2 linked regions of the Homo sapiens genome follow. The protein of the gene in region 1 interacts with the protein of each later gene in a pairwise test. Each region holds a gene or a part of one and is shown on either strand. Other genes may lie near its edges.

Region 1 (11,478 bases):
GCTGGAGTACACCAAGACACGCACACACACACACACCACGCACAGGTGCCAGGGCCATGCCAGCCGGATGAGAGACCTGTGCACTGATACATACGTCCCCTCCCCCGCAACCCCTACAGGCACACGCTGAGACAGGCACCAGCTGGTGGTCTCCAAGGGAACCCGTTGGCCTCCAGAGGACTGGGATGGGGGAACGGGTGTCCCAGGGCCCTCTGCTCCTGCGAATGGGAAAGGACCGAGAGAGCTTTCGTGATTCCTTTTCCCAGAGCCTAGGGCTGGAACTGGGGTGGGCTGGAATTGCCTTTGTGGGGGGCGGTGGGGTCCTGAAGGCTGCGGGGGGCTGAGGAAGATCCATCTTCAGGGTGGAAGGAAGAGGGGGGGCCTGCACTAAGCAGGTGCTATTTTGGAAAAGTACCCTCCCCCAGCTGCTACCTTCCTAACACAGGGGTGGGGTCCCTGGGCCAGACAAAGCCAAAGCCATTCATTTGCCTGTAAAAGGAAGTGCCAGGGTCTTTGCTTAGCATGGGAATGGAGGGGCTGTTTCTTGGCTGCAACCGAGTCAGGTGGATGGTGCCTCTCCCTGGAGCACTGATGGGGCAGGTAGCTTCTGGCAGAGGGTGCTGCAGGCAGATCCCCCTTCTCCAGGGGCCCTAGGAGAGCCAGGAGCTGAGGGGGGCCCCAAGGACCATCTAGCCAGGATGGCAGACTTGAGCTGCACCCTGCTGTGACCCGAGCTCTTCCCCACCCTTGGGGAGCCCCCCTCCAATCCTTGTTGCAGAGGAAGGAGGAGGTCTCAACAATTCTACTCCCTTGACTGTGGCGGAGACAACAGCCATTGCTCACTGGGGGGTCAGCTGCTCTGCATGGGGAGAAGCATCTGAGGGAAGAGAAAGGTGATGTGTCTGATACCTGCCTCACTCTGAAGTTCTCATTCACTCATCATTCATTCATTCACTTATTGAGGAGTGCCTGTGGTATGCTGGGTAGACTGGGGCACAGAGATCAATAAGACACGGCCCCGCCCTAAAGAAGGGTGAGAACTAGTACGTATTTGTGCCAGATAATTTACATTCTTCATTCTGTATAACCTTCATAGAAACCCAGCAAGGTAGGTTCTATCCCCAGTTGTCTGAGCAGAAAATGAGGCTCATAAGGGTCACCCAGCCAGGATTCAAGCCTGGGTCACCTGCCCATCTGACGTTGACATGGTGGGACCAGGGGAGTTGTAGGGACAGAGGATGGAACTACAGAATCCAGCTCCAGAGCAGCATTGGTTCTGTGCCCCAGAGGTCTTTGTTTATTTGTCAGGCACCCTTACCAGACAGGGGGCCCTCAAGGGCAACAACCTTGTCTGGGGTACATAAGTGTCCTTGGAATTTCGCCTAGGGCTTGGCTGGTGTAGACCCCCATTTGACAGCATATGAAATGGCCTAGATGGGATGGAATGAATGAATGAGTGAATGTGATGAGTACCAGAAAATGTGCAGTGGGCACAGAAGAGGGCCATCCACATCAGAAGGCAAAGCAGAGGCTTTCCTGGGAGTAGCAGTGGGGCTGAATGCTGGAGGAGGAGGAGGAGGAGGAGGAGGAGGAGGAGGAGGGAGCCAGGGGTTGGAGGGGGAACAGGATCTTCCAGCAAAGCTTGTGGCACAGTGACCTGCACACATTTACTGTACTTGGGGCTGGTGGGTGGCTTGTTAGCATGTGACTGGCATGTCACTGGCATGTGGTGGGGAGGCTGACTTGCCAGCAGGCGCTGTGTACAGTGCACACAGTGGGTGCTCATATGTGCTTGTTGGAGGAATGAAAGTGAGATCTACCAGGTCCTGGTCCTGTAGTGGGCCTGTGGTAGCCCCTAGATGCTGCTTGGGGATCTGGTAGGACCCTCTCTCCATCAGGGTCTATCTTTTGGGCGTGCTCTTTTAGGATGCTGCAGTTGACAGGCCAGGGCGGAGCAGGCCATGGTGAGAGCACACACTTTATAGGAATCTTTACACAACCTCTCATAAGTAAATACAAGGCATACTTTCCAAGTCTGTAAAATGGGGATAAGACCACCCCCCCAAACCATGTGGCTCTATCTTATAACACAGGTTGAGACCAAATGGGCTCAGCTGCAGAGGCATAAGGGGCAATGGAAAGGCCCAGCTTGTGTGAGCAGCTGGGCAGGAAAAATGGGGCATTGGTCCCAGTGCAGGTGTGCTGAGTGGGGCCTGTGAGCCACGTGCAAGAGTGGAGGAGCAGGGCCAGGCTGCTGAGAGTCAGCTGCTGCAGGGCTGGGCCAATCTTGCTGCCATGCGGAGCTGCCTGGCTGGGAACAGCTTCCTGGGAAGCAAGAGAGAGCCATGCCAGGCCCTGGGGAGGTCCTGAGGCTTTGGCAGATTTGGCTGTGCCTGGGAGTGACAGAAGAAAGAACAGTTTCCCATTGGGAGAGAGGGTCTTACCAGTACCGGTGGAAGGACCAGGTGGAGGGAGATGAGAGTAGGCTCCTGGCTGGGTTTAGGGGTGGGAAGGGAATACTTCTGTCCCCTCTCCCTCCCGCCCATCTGCTGCTCCATCAGGCCTCCCTGTAAGGTTGAGACTCTGCAGGGTGTTAGTCATGAAACATAGGATTCTAGAACGGCAGAGCTGGAAGGTGTCCTCAAGAGCACATGGAGTCCAACAACCATGCTTGTGTAACTGGCATCTGGGGACACCTTCCTTTAACCAATGCTTTCACATGTACTGTTTCATTTCCCCTACAGACCTGAAAGGGGCTGGGGCAAAAGGGTCTGGGACTGTAAGATATTGCTCAGTGCCTTTTTTTTTTTTTTTTTTTTTTTTTTGGAGACAGAGTTTGACTCTTTTGCTCAGGCTAGAGTGCAGTGGCACGATCTCGGCTCACTGCAACTCCGCCTTCCGATTTCAAGCAATTCTCCTGCCTCAGCCTCCTGAGTAGCTAGGATTACAGGCGCCTGCCACCATGCCTGGCTAATTTTTGTATTTTTAATAGAGACAGGGTTTCACTATGTTGATCAGGCTGGTCTCGAACTCCTGACCTCATGATCCGCCTGCCTTGGCCTCCCAAAGTGCTGGGATTACAGGCGTGAGCCACCGCGCCCGGCCATTGCTCAGTGCTTCTAAGCATCATGTCTCATGAAAGCTCACCACAGTCTTAGTGATGATCTTTCCATTTTATAGAGAGGGATGCAGGCTCATAGTGGGGAGGTGGTCTTCCCAAGTCCACAAAGCTGAGAAGTAGCAGAGCCAGGCTCTTTCCACTTCACCCCATACCCCAATTGTATGGATGGGGAAATGGAGGTGCTCTATTCTGGAACCTGCCCTGGTGGACAGTGGCCTGATAAGGAAACCCACAGATTTCTCCTGTGTATGAACACACCCATGATCCACTAAACCCAGGGGGACGTTTGCCCTTCCTCACTAGGGAGGGGCTGGTTCCTCAGCCTTCTCTTTCATCTGCTATCCACCACTCCAAGAGCACACTGTGTCGTCTTAGGCAAGTGACTGCCCTCATCTGGTTCTCATCCCCTCCCCACTGGTTCCACAGATTCAGAACAATGGCTGGGAGGGTGTCTGGGCTCCTTCAGGTACAGACACCCCTACTCTGCAGTGGTGCTCATGGTACAGAGGGGACATCGAGGCTGGGAGACGAGAGTGATAGCCACTCTCCAGAGAAGGGTAGCCCTGTTTGCTTCTAAAAGATGAAGCAGCCGAGGTCAGTGACAGTTAATAGATGTTAGTGCAGGATCCTAAAAAGTCTTTGCCCTTTATTCGGGGAGGGAGGCATGACTCAGGTCTGAACAACCCCAGACATTTCTTAGACCAGTGGTTCTCAGCCAGGGCAATGGTGCTTCCCAGGGGACATTTGGTACCATCTAGAGACATTTTGGGTTGTCACAGCCTGGGGGGCTACTAAGATCAGGGGTGCCACTAATCATCCTGTAATGCATGTGACAGCCTCCCACAATAATTACTCAAATGTCATTAGTGCCAAGATGGAGCAGCCCCTGGGTTAGATGCACAGATGTGGGCTTCAGAGCAGTGAGGTGCATTTGAAAGTGCCCAGCAACCAGAGAACCTGGCACTGGCCCAGATTTTACCTCTGACCTGCTCTGTGTTCTTAGTTGAGTTCTTTCTCCTCCAGGCCTCAGTCTCTTTGTCTATGAAATGAGGGACCTGGACTGGATGATACTAAGATCCCTTCCAGGCCCAACTTTGTATGATTCTGTAGCAAGAGAAAAATACCATGGTTTCCATGTGACCTCTGCCGTCCTCCTGATCACCCCTCCGACCCCTCCCACCTTGGCTCTGCAGGGCTCCCAGAGACCAGGACGGACGCAGCCATGTCAGAGCTGGTGCCTGAGCCCAGGCCTAAGCCAGCGGTGCCCATGAAGCCCATGAGCATCAACTCCAACCTGCTGGGCTACATCGGCATCGACACCATCATCGAGCAGATGCGCAAGAAGACCATGAAGACCGGTTTCGACTTCAACATCATGGTCGTTGGTACGGAAGGCTGTGGGGCTGCTGCAGGCCTGGTGGCGGGCAGCACCAAGGATCCCATTTCTTTCCCCCAAATGGCTGTGACCCTGGCTCTTCTAAGATGAGCTGTTTGTAGAAGGGAGAATTTCACCATGCTGATCACAAAGGCCTGACCCCTGTCTCCCCTTAAGACTAGCTGACCCAGGGGTAGGAGCTTCAGGTGGATGCCAGCCCAGCCCCCCATCACCAGCTCGGTGTACACAGGCAGCCCCTTCACCACTCTGATCCTGCTTTTGGGTTTGTGACATGAGAGAATCAGCAATGTTCTTCCTTACCTCTGAGAGCTGGTGGAAGGATTGGATGAAGGGTGGTCTTATTTCTACTCTTTTGTAGTGCTTTAAAACTTTGAGAGAAGGCCGGGTGTGGTGGCTCACACCTGTAATCCCAGCACTTTGGGAGGCTGAGGTGGGCAGATCACCTGAGGTCGGGAGTTTGAGACCAGCCTGACCAACATGGAGAAACCCCATCTCTGCTAAAAATACAAAATCAGCCAGGTGTGATGGCGCATGCCTGTAATCGCAGCTACTCGGGAGGCTGAAGCAGGAGAATCGCTCGAACCCGGGAGGTGGAGGTTGCAGTGAGCTGAGATCACGCCATTGCACTCCAGCCTGGGCAACAAGAGTGAAACTCCGCCTCAAAACAAAAAACAAAAAACAAAAAAGATTTTGAGAGAATTTCCAGGGATTTGGTCACTGAGTAGCATCACTGCGTCACAGAATGTAAGAGTAGGAAGGGGCTGGGCATGGTGGCTCACGCCTGTAATCCCAGCACTTTGGGAGGCCGAGGTGGGTGGATCACCTGAGGACAGGAGTTTGAGACTAGCCTGACCAACATGGTGAAACCCTGTCTCTATTAAAAATACAAAAAAATTAGCTGGGCATGATGGCACATGCTTGTAATCCCAGCTACTCTGGAGGCTGAGGCAGGAGAATCACTTGAACCTGGGAGGTGGAGGTTGCAGTGAGCTGAGACTGCACCATTGGACCCCAGCCTGGGCAACAAGAGTGAAACTCCATCTCAAAAAAAAAAGAAGAAAAAAAAAAGAGTAGGAAGGGACCTTTGCCCCGTCTCAGTGAGATGTCCAGTCAGTGCTGAAAAAGGAATCTGGCGTCATCCTTCTGTCCTCTTCCTCCTTCATCCCCCAATCAGTCATCCAGTCCTGTCCATTTTACCTCATACGTATCTCTTACGTCTGCCCACTTCTCTCCTCTCTCTTGCTGCCACCCTATACTGACTTTCTCTCACCTGGCTTGCCGTGGCCACCTGACTCTGTGCTGTCAAAGTGCTGACCTGCAGCAAGATAAGCTCAGCTGGGGCTTGGGCCAGAGTATAAATCATCTGGAAAATCTTGCTATAAAAAACCTCCACTGAGCTAAACAGTGTGCTCAGTGACAAGGTAGATTTCTCTCCTGAGGCAGACTTCTTATCTCAAGAACCAGTAGCAAATGGGTCAGGGACCCTGGTAGCTGGGCCCCTATGGGCCACACTCGGAGTGGCACCAACCCTCCTAGCTCTCTGTCTCCTTTCCTCTCCAATCCCTTGTCCACCAGTGACCAAATAATCTTCCCACCTTGCAAAACTTATCGAGTCACCCAACTTACTTAAAACTCTGTAACAAACTCTCCTTTAACCTCAGGGTAAGTTTAAACTCGTAGACTGTCCTGATTGTACCTCTTCAGCTCATCTCTGACCACTTCCCATCTAGCATTGTACTCCTCACTCAGAAGAGGCAGTGCTCGTCCACATGCCATGCTCTCTCCTACCCTAGAGCTTTTGCATCTGCTGTTCCCTCTGGCTAGAACTCATGACTCTTTTGAAATCAACCTTCCGGTTTCAGCTTAGTTGCATTTCTCCAGAAGTCTTCCTTAGTCCCAGAGAGACTGGGTTGGATTCCCTTGGCAATGCTGTTTCAATACCCTGTGGCTATTCTCTTTCACAGTGGTTATTGCAACATACTATAATTGTCTGCTTATGTTTTGGTCACTCTCACACTAAGCAGCTCCTTGAGGGTAAGGATCATGTTTTGTTCACGATAGTACCTCCAAATTTTAGGACAACACTTGGCACCTAAGAATAATTAATGAATGAATGCTCTTAGAAAACATCTCAGAGCAAGCATGGCAAATCCAACACCCGTGAGCCACTTCTCTCCCCAGTGGTGTGCATGGCAGACTGCTAGTCAGTCATGGCACGTGTTCAGTGCTGAGCCCAGATGTAGCCTTTTTAACATAATGGTCTAGGTGACTACTACCAGATAATCAGCAGGAATGAGAAATGCACCTTATTTACCATCCCTGGTCTTGTCCAATTTCCTCTCTCCTCACCATCCTATCAGTAAAGAAACCAAGGCATGACTAATCCAAAGGCATTCAGGGAAAACAATGCAGGTGGGTCTGGAACTCTAGGCCCTTGTCCCCCAGCATGGTTCTTTTTCTAATATAATCACAAGAATTCACCAGCCCAGTATTTCTTAGATCTTATTGTCCATAGGACTCTTCTGGAAGCCCAGTTAAAATGCAGATTCAGAATCATAGGTCTGGGGTGGGGCCTGAGATTCTGCATTTCCTACTAGTGTCCGGGCAATGCCGAGGCTGCTTGTCAATTGCAAGTCTTTCTTGTGGGATTCTTGTACGTGTTGAAGTTTGAGAAGCTCTGCTCAGACCAGTGGGTTTGTTTCTTTTGAGACAGAGTCTCGCTGTGTTGCCCAGGCTGGAGTACAGTTGCGTGATCCCGGCTCACTACAGCCTCTGCCTCCTGGGTTCAAACGATCCGCAGCCTCCTGAGTAGCTAGGACTACAGGCATGTGCCACCATGCCCGGCTAATTTTTGTATTTTTAGTGGAGACAGGGTTTCACCATGTTGGCCAGGCTGGTCTCGAACTCCTGGCCTCAAGTGATCTGCCCGCCTTGGCCTTCCAAAGTGCTGGGATTACAGGCATGAGCCACTGCACCTGGCCTGACCAGTGGTTTTCCCTTTTTTTTTTTTTTTTTTTTTTTTTGAGACGGAGTCTCGCTCTGTCGCCCAGGCTGGAGCGCAGTGGCGCGATCTCAGCTCACTGCAAGCTCTGCCTCCCAGGTTCATGCCATTCTCCTGCCTCAGCCTCCTGAGTAGCTGGGACTACAGGCGCCTGCCACCACGCCGGGCTAATTTTTTGTATTTTTTTTAGAAGAGACGGTGTTTCACCGTGTTAGCCAGGATGGACTCGATCTCCTCCTGACCTCATGATCCGCCTGTCTCGGCCTCCCAAAGTGCTGGGATTACAGGTGTGAGCCACGGCAAACGGCCTGACCAGTGGTTTTCAAATGTTCTTTAGCTGTGAAACTTTTCCTTGAAATGAAATCTTCTGCAGATATGCATCTGGAAAACAGGTGAAAGGGAGCCATAGCGAAGGAAGTGGATGCAGGGGCCCTGCCTGCCCAGCCTCCTCCTCCTCTCACAGTGCCCTCTCTGGCATGTATCTTCACAGGACACTAAGGCTTCTGGGAGCACAATCTAAAAACCACTACACTAGAAGAAAGAGTGGATATAGAGCCAAGATGTTATTAGGGTTTGAGTTCCTGGTCTTGCATGTATTAGTTATGTTGCTCTGCACATATTTTGTTAGAAGAGGATTCATCTCTCTAGGACCATCTCAACTGAGGATAAAGATAGTTCTGCTTCAGGATCCACAGGGCTGATATAAAAATGAATTTGGCTAACAAATGTGAATGTACAATATGCACTGTGAGGCAGTATCAGGATGCAAAGTCATTCTATTTTTCCTTTTAGTATCATTAAAAAGTGAAAACCTAAGCAAAAAATGGAATCACGAGAAAACAGAAAACCACGACACTAGACATATGCAGAGGTTGTCCCTTTTCCCAGTGGTCCTGTGGCTCTGGGAAGGAGAGAATATGGAATCCAAGTGATGTTTCCCCAAGGCCCTCTGCAGTAAGCAGGAAGCCATTCCCACCTGCCTGCAATCCCCACTCAGCCTGGCCATCCCCCAGTGAGTGGTCAGACAAGGTGTGGCCTGGATCATGGCTCTAGAATTCTGTAAGCTTATGGAGAAATATTAGGCTCAGGAGGTGGATGCAGAGTCTCCCTACCTCCTCCTCCTGCTTTGCTGTAGGCCAGAGTGGACTGGGCAAATCAACGCTGGTCAACACGCTCTTCAAATCCCAAGTGAGCCGCAAGGCCTCCAGCTGGAACCGGGAGGAGAAGATCCCCAAGACAGTGGAGATCAAAGCTATCGGGCATGGTGAGGACCAGGCAGGGACCCCTATGGGCTTTGTTCAGTGAGTGCCTCTGCTGGAAAGGGGAAAGAATGGGGCTTATTGAAGAATAAGATCAATAAAAGGCAACCTTAAGACAAAACAGACGTGAGCACTTCACTCTGAAGCAAACTCCTTAGACTGCAGGTTCAGGGAAGAGAGAGCAGGGAGCTCGAATGGAAGGAGGTGAGATTTGAGGTGGATGATAAAGTACAGGATTTAGACAGGTAGAAAGAGGTAAGGAGTGGGCAGGTACGGTGGCTCATGCCTGTAATCCCAGCACTTCGGGAGGCCAAAGTGGGAGGATCGCTTGAGTCATGGAGTTCGAGACCATCTTGGTCAACACAGTGAAACCCTGTCTCTTTTTTTGTTTGTTTGTTGTTTGTTTTTTTGAGACGGAGTCTTGCTTTGTCGCCCAGGCTGGAGTGCAGTGGTGCGATCTCGGCTCACTGCAAGCTCCACCTCCCGGGTTCACGCCATTCTCCTGCCTCAGCCTCCTGAGTAGCTGGGACTACAGGCACCCGCCACCACGCCCGGCTAATTTTTTTTGTATTTTTAGTAGAGATGGGGTTTCACTGTGTTAGCCAGGATGGTCTTGATCTCCTGAGCTCGTGATCCGCCTGCCTTGGCCTCCCAAACTGCTGGGATAACAGGCGTGAGCAACCACGCCCGGCCCGAAACCCTGTCTCTTAAAAAAAAAATTAGCTGGGTATGATGGTGCATATCTGTAGTCCTAGCTATTGGGGAGGCTGAGGCGACAGCATCACTTGAGCTGGGGAGTTCGAGGCTACAGTGAGCTGTGATTGCACCACTGCACTCTAGCCTGGGTGACAGAGTGAGACCCTGTCTCTTAAAAAAAATAAAAGAAGAAGAAAAAGAAATGAGTAGAGAGGGTATTCCAGATTCCAGGTACAGGGAACAGCATAAGCCATGATATCGAGATGGAAAAGACCCTAAATTTGACTTTTCCAATAACTGATCCTGAAGACAAGGCCTGGGTCTCCCTGGCTAGTAGGCTGCCAGGTACCTGGGGTCAGCTGTAGGACTGACCTCTCTGGTACATTTTCTTTTCACCCCCAGTGATAGAGGAAGGCGGTGTCAAAATGAAGCTGACCGTCATCGACACCCCAGGCTTTGGAGACCAAATCAACAATGAAAACTGGTATCTGTCTGCCTCTGAGATCTTTGCCCTAAAGACTCTGCTGGGAAGATACTTACTATGGTGCAGATTCATTCACGTTGAGAACCATCTGCACCCTCCATGCTCTGTAGTTCCCGACAGCCCAGGCCAGGGCCCCTGGGGAGCTCCACCCCTGCTAACTAACCATCCAGGAAAGCCATCGGTGCGGGGGCTGAGGGGGAATCTGGCAGCAGGTATCCTAGGCCCACCAACCAGGGAATGACATGAATGTAAGGAGATTGCTACCAGATCATGCCTAAGCTGAGCCCTAGGTCTTGTTCTTCTGATGCATCTATCTACTTTCCCTCCCCATCAGCTGGGAGCCCATTGAGAAGTACATCAATGAGCAGTACGAGAAGTTCCTGAAGGAGGAGGTCAACATCGCCAGGAAGAAACGCATCCCTGACACTCGTGTCCACTGCTGCCTTTACTTCATCTCTCCCACAGGACACTCGTATGTACCAACCCTACCCCTATTGTCAGGCCTGGTCTGGTTTGTATCATCTGTGCCCATCTGGATTGGATGATCCATACGTTGACTCAGCTAGGCCTCCCTAGCTGAGTCCTAGCCCTTCCAGCCAGATGGGTTGGTACATAGTCATGGCCCATGACCTTGGGATTCCCTAGACTTTCCACGAGGAAGTTTGACTTTCTTGCTAGGAGGTTAAAGCTGTCCAACATCAGCCACCAATATCTGCCCACTGGTGTCCCAGCAGCATGGCACAACTGTATCAGCAAAGAGGACTTGGTGAATGTGAGCAGAGGGCACTTCATTTATTCACCAAATACCTGCTTTGGAAAATAATTGGAGTCGGAGGGAGCAGCAAGAAGGGTGAAATAGGGCAGTGCAGGGCTCCTGGATTGGGGCTGGTGTTTGGAGGGTAGGGACCCAGTTGTAGGCATTTAGAAGGTACCAGCCTGGAGTGAGGCATTGTGTGTTCAGAGATGAAGGCCAACCATTGTCATGAAGTACTATCTGATAGGCAGAATAAGACACACACAAGCATGTTGGGAACTCTGATTGTGAGTGACAGGTGGGCCCCATGAAGGAAGTGCTGGGAACAGGCAGAGGATGGAGATCCTAGGGGGCAGGCCAGAAACCTTCCTGCAGAGACCGGGGGAGGGGGGTCCCATAACATTACTAAGCCCAGCTGCTGGGCCAGAGTTAAGCTCTTCAGAGGATGGCACAAGCAAGGTAAGCCCCAAATTTTCTAGGAACCAGGCAGTGATGGTAGGGGGAGAAGAGAGATGAAACAAGACCCCTGGGCTAGACCCAGGAACTCAACAGAAGGCTGGTTTTATCCCTCCCTAGGCTTCGACCCCCTGGTCAGAATGAACCATCAGACAGACTGACTTAGTGAGTCCCTGAGATTGCAAAATAGAGCCAAGTTGGGGTCTCAGAGCCTGAGGTAGGATGGGGGCATAGACTGTCAGATTGTGGGAAGGGCAAGGCCTCCAGTTTGGCCCTGCAGGACTAACTCTGGGGGCTAGGAGGAGACCTGT
Region 2 (11,478 bases), on another chromosome or scaffold:
GGGATGACTCTACTTCCCTAAGAGGGCTGCTGTGCAGATGAAGTGAGCTCATGTCGGAAATGTTAACGCAGAGTCTGCACCCAGCAACCATTTACTGACTTCTTACTCTTGCTGTTATAATGATGAATAACCAGTTTGGCCAATCTAGGTCAGTTTTGTATAAAACTATCCAGTGATCAGAAACAAAAGATTATTTAGAAAAACTGCTTTCACATTTCCTCCTTTGTTTACAATTTCTTGAAAACATTCATACAAAATTTATTGAATTTGCTTTTTTTTTAGAAAATGCTTCTCATATTTATTCAGCCATGGTGCACTGTAAGACGCATACGCTGTGCCTGAAGCTGAAAAATGGTGTAAAATAGAAATAAAAATAACCATTCCCTAAACACAAACATCCAGTAGAGAACAGCAAATGAGGTCAGTGAAACAGCCCCCAACTTCTTTTTCCATCTTAGACATTTTTGGTGATGATCTTTCTCTCTGACAAGTGCTAGGTCAAATCCTCTATTCTGTATACATTTTATTCTGTGGGAGTTTTGAAGAACTCCTTCTTTTCTAGCTTCTAGAAAAAGACATTTGTTCTCTCTCGTTCTAGCTTCTACCTAGCAAATTAAGAAAAGTACAGGAATGGACAGCTTACTAAAAATCAGTGGCTGTGCTACATGGCTATGGCAAGATCAGAAACCCAAAGTTCTATATTTAAGGTATTATAATTATTCTCCAAGAAAGAATGGGTTTAAAAAAACTGCTTTAGGGCATGGGGATAAGTGGTGATATTTATAGGAAAATATTAACATGCCAGGTCAATGCAGTATATAAATCATTTCAAGTAAACAGTTGTAACTATGATTTTGGTGGACAGTATAGAGAATTCTGCCTTAATATATAGGAATTCAAAGGGAAAACCAGCTGACTTATTTTTTACTTCCAGAAAGTCTAGTAAATAATTCCTTAATGCATAATTTTTACTAATTGTTTTTGGACTGCTCAAACGTTTTCCAAATCAATAAAGTTTTACACTAAAAATAAGTTTCTTCTCCTTAAAGTGAATTTAAGTAGATTTTTGTGGTGAGGTATATAATAAAAGATAATGCTCTTCAGGTGGTAAGGAGCAAAACACAATTTACTCCCACTATGGGAAAAGTTGAACCCCTGAAGGAGATAAGGCCATTTCCCTCTTGATTTCAGGGGCTTGTGGAATTCTGCTTCTCCTGAGTTACAGTACATGGCGCTTGGACCTGCACAAAGGTTCTGAACATCAGGGGAGGAAAATGATAGCCTTCGAGTTAGGCTTGAGTAGTTTCGTACTTCACACTTGCAGAGTGAAGCACACTCACCAGCTTTCCTCGTTGCTGGGCCGACCTGGTTTCTCGCAAGGTGTACACATCTCCACAGACAGAGATCTCGCGCCAGACCCCGGGCTGGGACTCCTCGGTGAAGCCCCCTCGTGGATGCATCACCAGGACGCCATTAGTAGTGAGCCCATCCATGTGGCCGTCGGGGTTTTTCCACTTTGCTGCCTTTTCCTGGAGAGAACACAGCAGAACAGAAAAAGTAGGTTAAGATGATGTTGAAATGGAAAGGATTCTGGAATTTCTTTAATACATTGCATAGAGGCAGAGGGGAGGAAGGTGATGAATTTTCATTTTCTATTTAAAGCTAATAATCACAAGGATAACATATGCCATCCTTTCGACAATATAAAAGAAGTGCTGAATGGATGAATGACTTATCACTGGACACACATCATAGTTCTCAAGAACTTGCAAAAAATCGAGGCCTGGGCTTCTCCCTCTAAGATTCTTTTTACCTTCCCCACAACCCCATGAGATTCCAGGAATCTGGTGTGTTTTCTCTTTTCAGTTATACTTATGCCATGCTCCTATCCTGTTATCTAAAAGTACTTTCTATGTTCTCACTGTCAGGATAGAGAAGAGAAAGGACAGTCATAAAGAAAGACCTTTTATTAAAGCTAGAAAATTCCAAAAATGTTAAGCCAACAAGTCGGGGTCATTATGTTTTCATAATAATCACCGTTTAAATTCTCAAAGGTAGATGGCGCATGTAGCTTGACATGACGACAGGACAGACACTCTTGGGTGCTTGTGCCACAGCTCTTCCCTTCAGCTTTCTTGGTGACAGAGCTCAGCTACTGTTCATGTGGCTGGGGCGGGGGTTGGGGGGTGGTGGGGAATCCTGATTAACCCAACATGACACTCCCAGCCCTCTTCCCAATAGCTGGTTTACAGGTGGGCACAGCACATGACTGGGCTCTGACTGATGACACATGATATCTTCTTGGAGGCTTCCAAGAAAGGTGTCTGTGCTCTAAGAAGAGACAAGGAAGAAACAGTGCTTCTGCCACCCTCTTCTCTGGCTGGAAGTTGTCATGTGGCAGGGGACATCTGGAAGTGCAGGAGCCAGCTCTCACCCACAAGAAGACCTCCCAGGAAGAGGCTGGTGCACCACGGGAGGCAGAAGGCAAGACAGAGAGAACCCAGTGCACTGGATGTCACAGAACCACTGAACCACCAACCCTGGAGCTGGCCTTCATCGGCACTTCTTATGTGGGAATAGTACATTTTCACTGATTTTAGATCATTTTGAGTGGGTTTTTTCCTGCAAAAATATCCTAATTCAAAAGGAAACTATGTTAAACCTGGATATTCACTAAAACTTCTGGGGTTTACAAGGAAACCCTATAAGGGCAGGGATTCAAGTCTGTGTTGTTCTCTGTAATCCCATAACTAAAACACCCAGTATGGAACATAGCAAACACTCATAAAACATTTTTGAATGAGTGAATCACTAACATTTTCCTCTAAGCCCTAATGATCTAAATTTGGCCCATTTATTTTTCTCTCTGAAATAAACCTCTTCGTTGCCGTAAATACATTATGGACAATGTTATAGGCATACTTTAAAAAAAGTACTTACTGTAAATATTACAATATAAAAAATATAATGAATAACAAGCAATGCTTATTAATGTTCAGATTTTTAATAACAAGTTTCTCAAACTGGCCACCTGAAAACTAAAATCTCAAAATCTCACTAGAGGCAACATACAAAGCCAATTTTTTTTTGCTCCAATTAAATGTTCCATATCATAATCACAAGCATTTTTCTAGAAATCGTGTACTTCTTGACAGTACTTACTCCAAGAAATATGTTTTTGGAAGAGTCAAATCCGGCGGCGAATATCCGTGCTGTGTAAGGTTCATTCCTGTCGCACACGATCCTGCAGGCGAACCTGGATATGGTGCTCTGTGTGATCTGGGCTTCGTCCGTGTTCTGGCTGCCAGAAATCGTGTCTGTGACAACGAAGTCGATAGGGCTTTCTGTTGATCTGCCCACCTAAGTAAATCAAATGTACTCGTGATTCACTTGGAAAATAGCAGGGTGCCGTATTTTATTCACAAGGAAAAAGCATTCAGGATTCCTTTAACATTCACTATCCTTGTTCTGAGGGTTAGAATTTAATGCAAGATTTTCATTCGTGCTCCTTTTCCTATTTAACTAGGGAAGATATTAGGGTAACCAAATATTAGAGATACCTATTTTTAATTTTATTGTATTGTGCTAAGAATATAATATGAGATGTATCCTCTGAAATATTTGAGCACATAATGCAGTCATTGTTGACTACAGGCAGAACGGTGCACAGCAACTCTCTAGAACTTACTCATCTTGCTTAACTCACTTTATGCCACTCACTAGTTCATTAGATTTTAAGTATTGAGAAAAAGCTCAATTAAGAGGACAGGAGTAGATCTTTGGCCACTCATCAGATTTTATCTCTTGGATTAATGTTCTATCCCAACAACTGTAACTCTGATTCTGAAGTTGCCAATGGGAGGAATGCAGAGGCCTGTGATGTATGCACATAAAGTTCCCAAAAGTCAATTTCCAAGGCATTTTTATTCTGGTCTCAAAGTTCTATCTACAAACTAGGCAATGTAATACATTTTTCATCCAAATGAAGAAAGTAGAAAAAAAATCTTGTATCACTTAGCTCAGCTTGCTTCCTGGAACAATATTACATTTCTTTTGTAAATCTCATATATACGTTCTCATGCACAGACTATCTCTCTAAAACCAGCAGACCACAGACATCTATTTTCTTTTGTTTTTTTATCACCCTTAATTTCTTGCCCTAATGAAATGTGCCTGGAATGAACTAAACTGCTGGTTTCATTGAAACTTAACAATTTGAACAGATGCATATTGCCTAGATATATGCATTTCAGGTTTTGAAAACACATAACTTGTTAAAAAATGCAATGTAAAATCTAAATTAGATGTATTATAAAATCATATAATTCATCCTTCTAAAGCTGCAAAATCTCCTCTCTGCTAGATTCATTTAAAAACTGGGTAACTTGGAAACTCTACTGATTCAGACTGCTTTAATTTTGTTAAACATTTTTTAACAAGAAAATTAGAAAAGTAATGAAGACTTATTGCAAAATATTTAACAAATGGAGAAAAGTATAAAGGCGAAAACAAAGCCAACTTCAAACTTAGGCGTAAACCTGTCCTGAGCCTCTATTCCAGTGAAGTTTAGGAGTAAAATGTGATAAATTCTAGAATTTCCCAGTCATCTCACCAAACCTGGAGCCTCATAGCGACAGTCACTGTCACAAGATTTGTCCATCTCCATGGAAGAGGGCAATGACTTTTCAAGCTCTAAGTTCAAAGCCAAAACCACTCTGCTGGTTTGAATGTTTCATAACTGTTCCTTCTTGTGTACAGAAATTACTCTTTTCTAGAAGGGCCACATTCTGAGTTCATCCAAATGTATTAAATTAATGTCTTGATGAAGTAATTGAAATTGACTGTAAAAAGAGGAAATTTTATTCTAACTGGAACAGCCTGCTAGGATCAATGATTTTAAGTCATGACACTTATCTTGATCGGTCATACACATGACTTATCAGTTTGCTTCCACTTAAATCTAACCTCTAGAGTGCTGGTAAAATTTTATACTTTATGACACAAGCCTCATGTTGCTTTTTCCAGGAAAACAAAACAACAACAACAACAAAAAAAACAACAAAAAAACAAAACTAAGTCACTTTCCTGCTGAAAAATCACTCAATGTGGAAAACTTGCAGCCTGCCCTTTCTTTTGACTACTGGATCAACTCTACATTATTTTAAAGGCAGTCATGCACACAAGCCAAGATGCTTTTGAATTTCATCTGATATTCATATAGCACGCAAGCCAGGGTGCTTCTGAATTTCATGTGATAGTCACAGAATGCCGGTAGTCATATAACTAGCTACAGTGATAACTTTGCTCCATTCAGCATGTTAAATTTTATATATATAAGAAAAGTTTGGGTTTGCCTGGATGTCAGCTGAAGCCAGGACAGGTAAGATGGTATCAAAGCATCTAGAAGGGCCTCACCTTTTTCTCACCTCCCTCAACCAATTCCTCCCATCTCCCTGCATCAATCACTTTATTTTCTGACTTCCCTCCTGGGATAAGGATGAAATATTGTTGCTCCCATCTAAAAGCAATCTTTCCATTGACACTTGGTATTCCAATGTTCTCCCTTTCCCAAGGATTTTGCTCCTAATATTATCTCCTCTCTTTCTTGAGTCACCAATTTCTCCTTTTATACTGGATCATGCCATCAGCTTTCACACACGTTCTGGAGCTTCTCAAACTCTGTGGTTAAAGGACCAGTATAGTTGCTGTTGTTGTTTTAAATTTTAACCCATCACTGATGCCTTTTAAACATACAATAAAAATGAGTACTTGAGAAATGATCATCTGCTTGGATGTTTCCGCAATGCCAAACTGTCATAAAAGTTTCCTCTCAATTTGTATGCTTATCTCATTCTGTATTTTAACAAACATTTCACTGCTGGGCAGAGGGAGTGCAGTTTGAGTAGCCCTGCTCTGGCGTAGTCTCCCACCTTTAAAAACGCTTTCCTTCACCTGCAAGCAAGCCCCAGGCTCCAGCCCTGTTTCTCTGATTCACTTAACAGCAAGACTTCTTGGAAAACCTGTTATCTCCTCCACTTCCTCACCCATATCTTTAGCTTCCTTCTTCCTCAACCCACTCCAATTGAGCTTCCTTCCCCACAACTCTACTGAAACCACGCATGCTAAGATTCCAAAAATCAATATATTGCTAAATCCAGGGCTTATGCTGAGCCAGCATATGCCGGTCCATCTCTACCTGGTACTAAAATAATGAAACTTTCAGGCCAGTTGGTAAATAGTCCCCCCTTCCCTTTTCTTTCTGTTCTCTCCCTAAATAGTATCACCAAATCCCACCTAACAGCTCAAAGTCTTCATCTCTCCCCTGAGCTTCAGACCGGCACACCCAATCTCCACTTGTATGTTTGATAAATATCTCAAATGTAATATATGCCAAACAGAACTTGGATCCCCCTTCACCCTGGGGCTTCCCTATATCAATGACTGACTGACATCCAATTTGCTCAAGCTAAAAGTCAAAACCCAAGAATAACCTGATTCTTCAGTTTCCTCCATGCCCACATTAGCCCTGTGTAAACACTGTCAGCTGTACCTCCAAACACATCCTCAATCCTTCTACTTTTCCCATTTTGGTTCTGGTTACCATTATGTCTTACTTGGGTTCTATCACCTTAGCCTCCAAACTGGTCTCCCTGTTTTCATACTTGCCACCTAGATTCTTTTCCATACAGTAGTTTGAGAAATCGTACAAAAACATAAATCAGATTATACCTCTCTCCTGCTTAAAATCCTCCAACAGCTTCCCAAAATTCCTAGAATAAATCTCAGACTCAACCTGGCCTGAAGGTCCTACCTGTCTCAGCCTCTACCTGCCCTTCCAAGTCCATCTGAGTTCACTGCTGTCCTTCTCCACTGTGATCTTGACTTGGAGCCTTTGCGCTCACTGTTTCCTCTGCCCAGAGGGTTTGTTTATTTGTGGTCTGCCTTCTCCAGATGTAGCCTCCTTGAGAGGAGAGCCTTAGTTATCTCTCCCCAGTCATCAAAGGAGTTTCTGACACAGCAGATGGTCAAGAGATGAAACTAGTAATTGGAAGATTATGACAGGGAGGCTGAATCCTATGAGATACAAACATACCTGCACATGCATGCTCATGTACAATGGTTGTAGAAATACCCACTAGAAAATGTAGATATTCTTTAATATTTTCCTCTTAACTTAATAGATACTAATTAAATGTTATCATCTAAAACTACAGTAAATCAACTAAATTGAAAACCAAACCAAACCAAACCAAACAAAAAACCAAAACCCAAAACTGTTAGGCCTTGTAGCACCGCGTTCGAAGCCTGTGAAACTGTGAAATCTGAGAGAAAGGGCCCCTGAACACCGGCTGCAGGGCCCAGTCAGTCTCCTGGCCCCTAAGGTCAGAAGGCACTTGGCACCACACGTTACTCTAGGGACACTGTAAAGACAATGCACCCCTCTAATTCCTTCCATTAACTATTTTCTCTTTTATGTTTCACTTTCTTGTTAGACTTTTCTTTCTTTCCTTGTTTATGCCTACTCCAGAAAATAATGACCAAGATCTTACTCTGATTATATTAACTAACAATTTCTTATACCTTAAATTCAGATCTAGCTTTGATTTTTCTCCTCAGGCAATAATATTTCTGAGTTCTGAGTCTACTAACTGACTCCAACAGTGGGAAATGCAGCATAAAGCCCTTTCTTGGTTCTTTCTGATATTCTGCCTTTAAATACTCAATTAACCCTAGAAATCATTTTAATGGGAATGACTAAAACGAACAAACTCTCCACACTGAGGTCCATACTTCAGAACTATGAGTGCTGTCGCGCTTTTTGCTCAGTGATTTTTGTCAGTAGTAGGCTTTGGAAATATAAACTTGTTAAAAGGAGGAAAAAATGGAAACAAGCCTGTCTTTTCAAGGTCTTATGAGAGTTGCTTAGTTCTCTGCTTAAAATGATCTGCCACAGATCCTTCTAACAGGTCCAGTGAGTCTGTGAATGTAATGTGTTATATTTCCTTAAGAAACATGTGAATTCTTGCTTGGCTTACCATACTTTATTTAAAGAGGCTGAGCTGGTACTATTCAGAGAATGAAGAGCTCAGTGACCTAAATCTTAGCTCTGCCCCTAATGCCTCTTCTCTTCTGGCCTTAGTTTACATTACTTTTCCTTTCAAACACCCATATTTCTCAGCTATGAAATTAAGAGGTTGGTACAAATCAGTATTCTCAGCATGTGGTTGATGAACCCCAGAGGGTCCCTGAGACCCTGCCATGGGGTCTAGGTACATGAGGCCAAAATTACCTTCATAATAATACAAAGACGTTAACTGCCTTTTCCACTGTGCTGGTCTCTATGCTGATGGTGCTAGAACAATGGTGGGTAAAGCTGCTGGTGCTTTGGCATGATTCAAAGCAGTGGCACCAAACTGTATTAGCAGTCATTGTATTTTTCATTGCTGTGAATTTGCAGTTAAAAATTATGAACTTTATTAAATCTTGAGTCTTTCGATATTCTGTATGACAAAATAGGAAGTATGCATAAAGTACTCAGAAGTTAGTAACGGGAAGCTGAAAAAGTCCAACTAAATCTTTTAATTCATTCTGCAGAGATGAGAGGGAAGAAAGTGAGCATGTGAGTCGAATGTGACTGTTCAACAGTGCGGAATACACTATGTGACACGTACGTCGCTAAAGAATATCTATGAAACTCTGAAAAATTCCGAAGAAACAAGATTCTTCTTAAAGGAATTTAATGTCTCACACTTTGAGAGTACCTGACTTACCTATAACAGGTACCATCACAGTAGTTTTTGAATTTAAGTGGTAAAAAAGTATCACTGACAATTGTGAAATAGGCTTTATTCACTTTTTTAGTATTAAGAATTCTCTCTGTAAAAAAAATCTTTAAAATCTTCACTGCTACTGTAAGTAGTAAAAAAACTTATAAATTGAAAATAATTTTAATGAGTATTAAAAAGATATAATAATAAAGTTCCATAAAAATATCAACAGGGGAGAATATACATATACTTATGTAGGAAGATATTTTCCTTAACAGAATAAGAAGACATTTATAAGATTATATAATGGAATGGCATGGAGAGTAAAACCACATTTAGTATTTTGCCCAAACATGATAAATCTTATTTTTGAGTTCAAACTGGCACTTTAATAACTATTTTTATAAATATGACTATATATTTTATCTAAGATTATTTAGTTTTTAAATATCTAACACATACGCATAGTTCCAAAAATCGAAAAGTGTAAAATATCTCCCTGTATACCACCTGCTCAGTCCCTTTCCCCACAAAGGCAACTGCTACATTCATGTCTTGTTAATCATTTTGGAGATTTTTTAATGCATATAAGCATGATTTAAACCATTTTACCATATTAAATTAACATTTAATAATGTAATATTTCATATTATTTAATAACATTTTATTTAGTAGCATTTTAAATTAATGGAATATATATTACCAATATGACTCCATATACTCAATAATATTAATATTTAACTCATTTAATATGTTTGGAGCTCTTTCTGTGGCTATATATACAGCTTTTCTTTGTTCTGTTTTATACCCTTGGAGGGCTCCACTGTATAGCTGTACCCAAATTTACTGAACTGGTCCACTACTGAAGAACATTTAGGTTGTTTCCAATCTTTTCCTATTAAGCAATGCTTTGAGCAATAACTCTGTACAAATGGCGTTGCGCATGTAGGTAAGGATATCTCTGGGGTAAGTCTCTAGAAAGAAGAGCTTTACAAAGAAAAGAGCTGAGTCAAACTATGTAAACATTTTGTATTTTTCATAGCTATTTTCAAATTGCTACCCCATAAATGCTATACCAATTTATAGAATGTAGGATAATGTCTGTTTTCCCCATATCTTTGACAAAACCTTTTGGATTTCTGCCAATCTGACAAGTGAAAAGTGGTATCTCTATGTGGTTTTAATTCACATTTTTCTTTTTGTAAATGAGGTTGAGCATATTTTCTTATTTTTAAGAGTTACTTAGTTTCCTTTTTTGGTGAACTGTCTGTCAAATCCTCTGCTCATTTGTCTATCTGATTGTAGGTATTTTAAAAAGAGATTTCCAAGAGTACCTTATATATTTGTGACATTAACCTTTTGTGATACAAATTGTAAATATTTCCCCAATTTGTAATTTGCCTTTGGCTCTTCTTATCAGTCTGAGGTGCTGAAGTTCAGGACTACTGCAAATACATTTAAAAACCACATAAAATATTCTTTCTTTCTCAATCAAAAGTACTGAATTAGGTGATCCAGATTAGGCCTGTACTTTACAATGTTACAGAAAATGGAAAAAGAGCTGGTGCATTTCTTTCTAGTCCCATCTCTCTTCCATACCTATGTTTATGTGTGTGCATATAAAAATAAAGCATGAAGTGGACATATGCCTTTTTTCACTTATTTTATTGCGCTTCCCATTTAATAATCATGTAATGGCTGCATGGTATTTTGCATTTAAATGCACCATACTGTAATCATTCTTACCTACTCCTGGAAGTATAGGTTTATTTTTAGTTTTTTACTAGTATATACAACACTACAATGAACAACTTTTTGGTTAAATCTTTGTTCATATTCCTTAATTATTTACGTATAAAAATGACTGAAGTTAGAATTACTGGGTCAATTGGTCTGAGCGCTGAAATTCATGGTAGTACTGCAATGTTGCCCTATAGAAATGTTGCACCAATTCACAGTCCCACCAGGGGGACCAATTCCATACAATGTTTTACAGTGCTGTATTATTTAATATTTTCCAATTAATAGGTAATAAAGAGTATTTTATTATTAATTCATTTGGTATTTTAAAAACTATTTTATATATTTATTGGCCATTTATATTTCTTCTTCTGAGAATTATATGTTTTGTTCTTTGTCCATTTTTGAAAGCATGGGAAAAGTGATTACTGTACAGTAGGTATCAATCCTTTGTCTACTTGATTTGTTGCCCTAATTGTCTCTAGTTCGACTTCTAATTTTTGTGACATTTAAAAAAGAAGTGAAAATGCGTAGGGTAAAATCTATTTCTTCATTTACTATTGATCCTTCCCTATTCCAAGAATATGAATTCTCCTAAGTTTTTTTCTAGAACTTTTTGTTCCTTCAGTTTTATATTTAAATGTTTATTCTCTAGAATTTACTTTAGCAGAGTATGATGTTAGTATCTATCATACTCTTTTGATGTTTGTTTCGACATCATTTATGTAATAATTTAACTCTCCATATGGAAATGCAAAGCCTCATCAATTCCAACTTATGCTTGCTTTTTTCTGTTATTAGTCTAAATTTTAATTGTTTGTTGTTTTAAAGTACTAAATCTGGAATATATTCATTAATTCTCTTTTTTTTAAATTCATTAACTGACGAATGTTTTTTTCCTTCCTTCTGCTCTTTTGATGTGCTTCTAGACTTTATATTATATACCACTAAAACTATGCCCAAACCCATC

The links.
Region 2: the proteins of SEPTIN3 (region 1) and PELI2 interact in binary tests that used the Homo sapiens proteins (3 or more experiments, as listed by UniProt).

Annotation. Positions count from the first base shown.
Region 1 is NC_000022.11:41,977,331-41,988,808, forward strand, and holds part of SEPTIN3 (neuronal-specific septin-3), read left to right. Parts: intron 1-4,314; coding exon 4,315-4,506; intron 4,507-8,653; coding exon 8,654-8,782; intron 8,783-9,875; coding exon 9,876-9,957; intron 9,958-10,291; coding exon 10,292-10,429; intron 10,430-11,478. UniProt on the Homo sapiens protein: Filament-forming cytoskeletal GTPase. May play a role in cytokinesis.
Region 2 is NC_000014.9:56,280,319-56,291,796, reverse strand, and holds part of PELI2 (E3 ubiquitin-protein ligase pellino homolog 2), read right to left. Parts: intron 3,361-11,478; coding exon 3,163-3,360; intron 1,530-3,162; coding exon 1,341-1,529; intron 1-1,340. UniProt on the Homo sapiens protein: E3 ubiquitin ligase catalyzing the covalent attachment of ubiquitin moieties onto substrate proteins. Involved in the TLR and IL-1 signaling pathways via interaction with the complex containing IRAK kinases and TRAF6.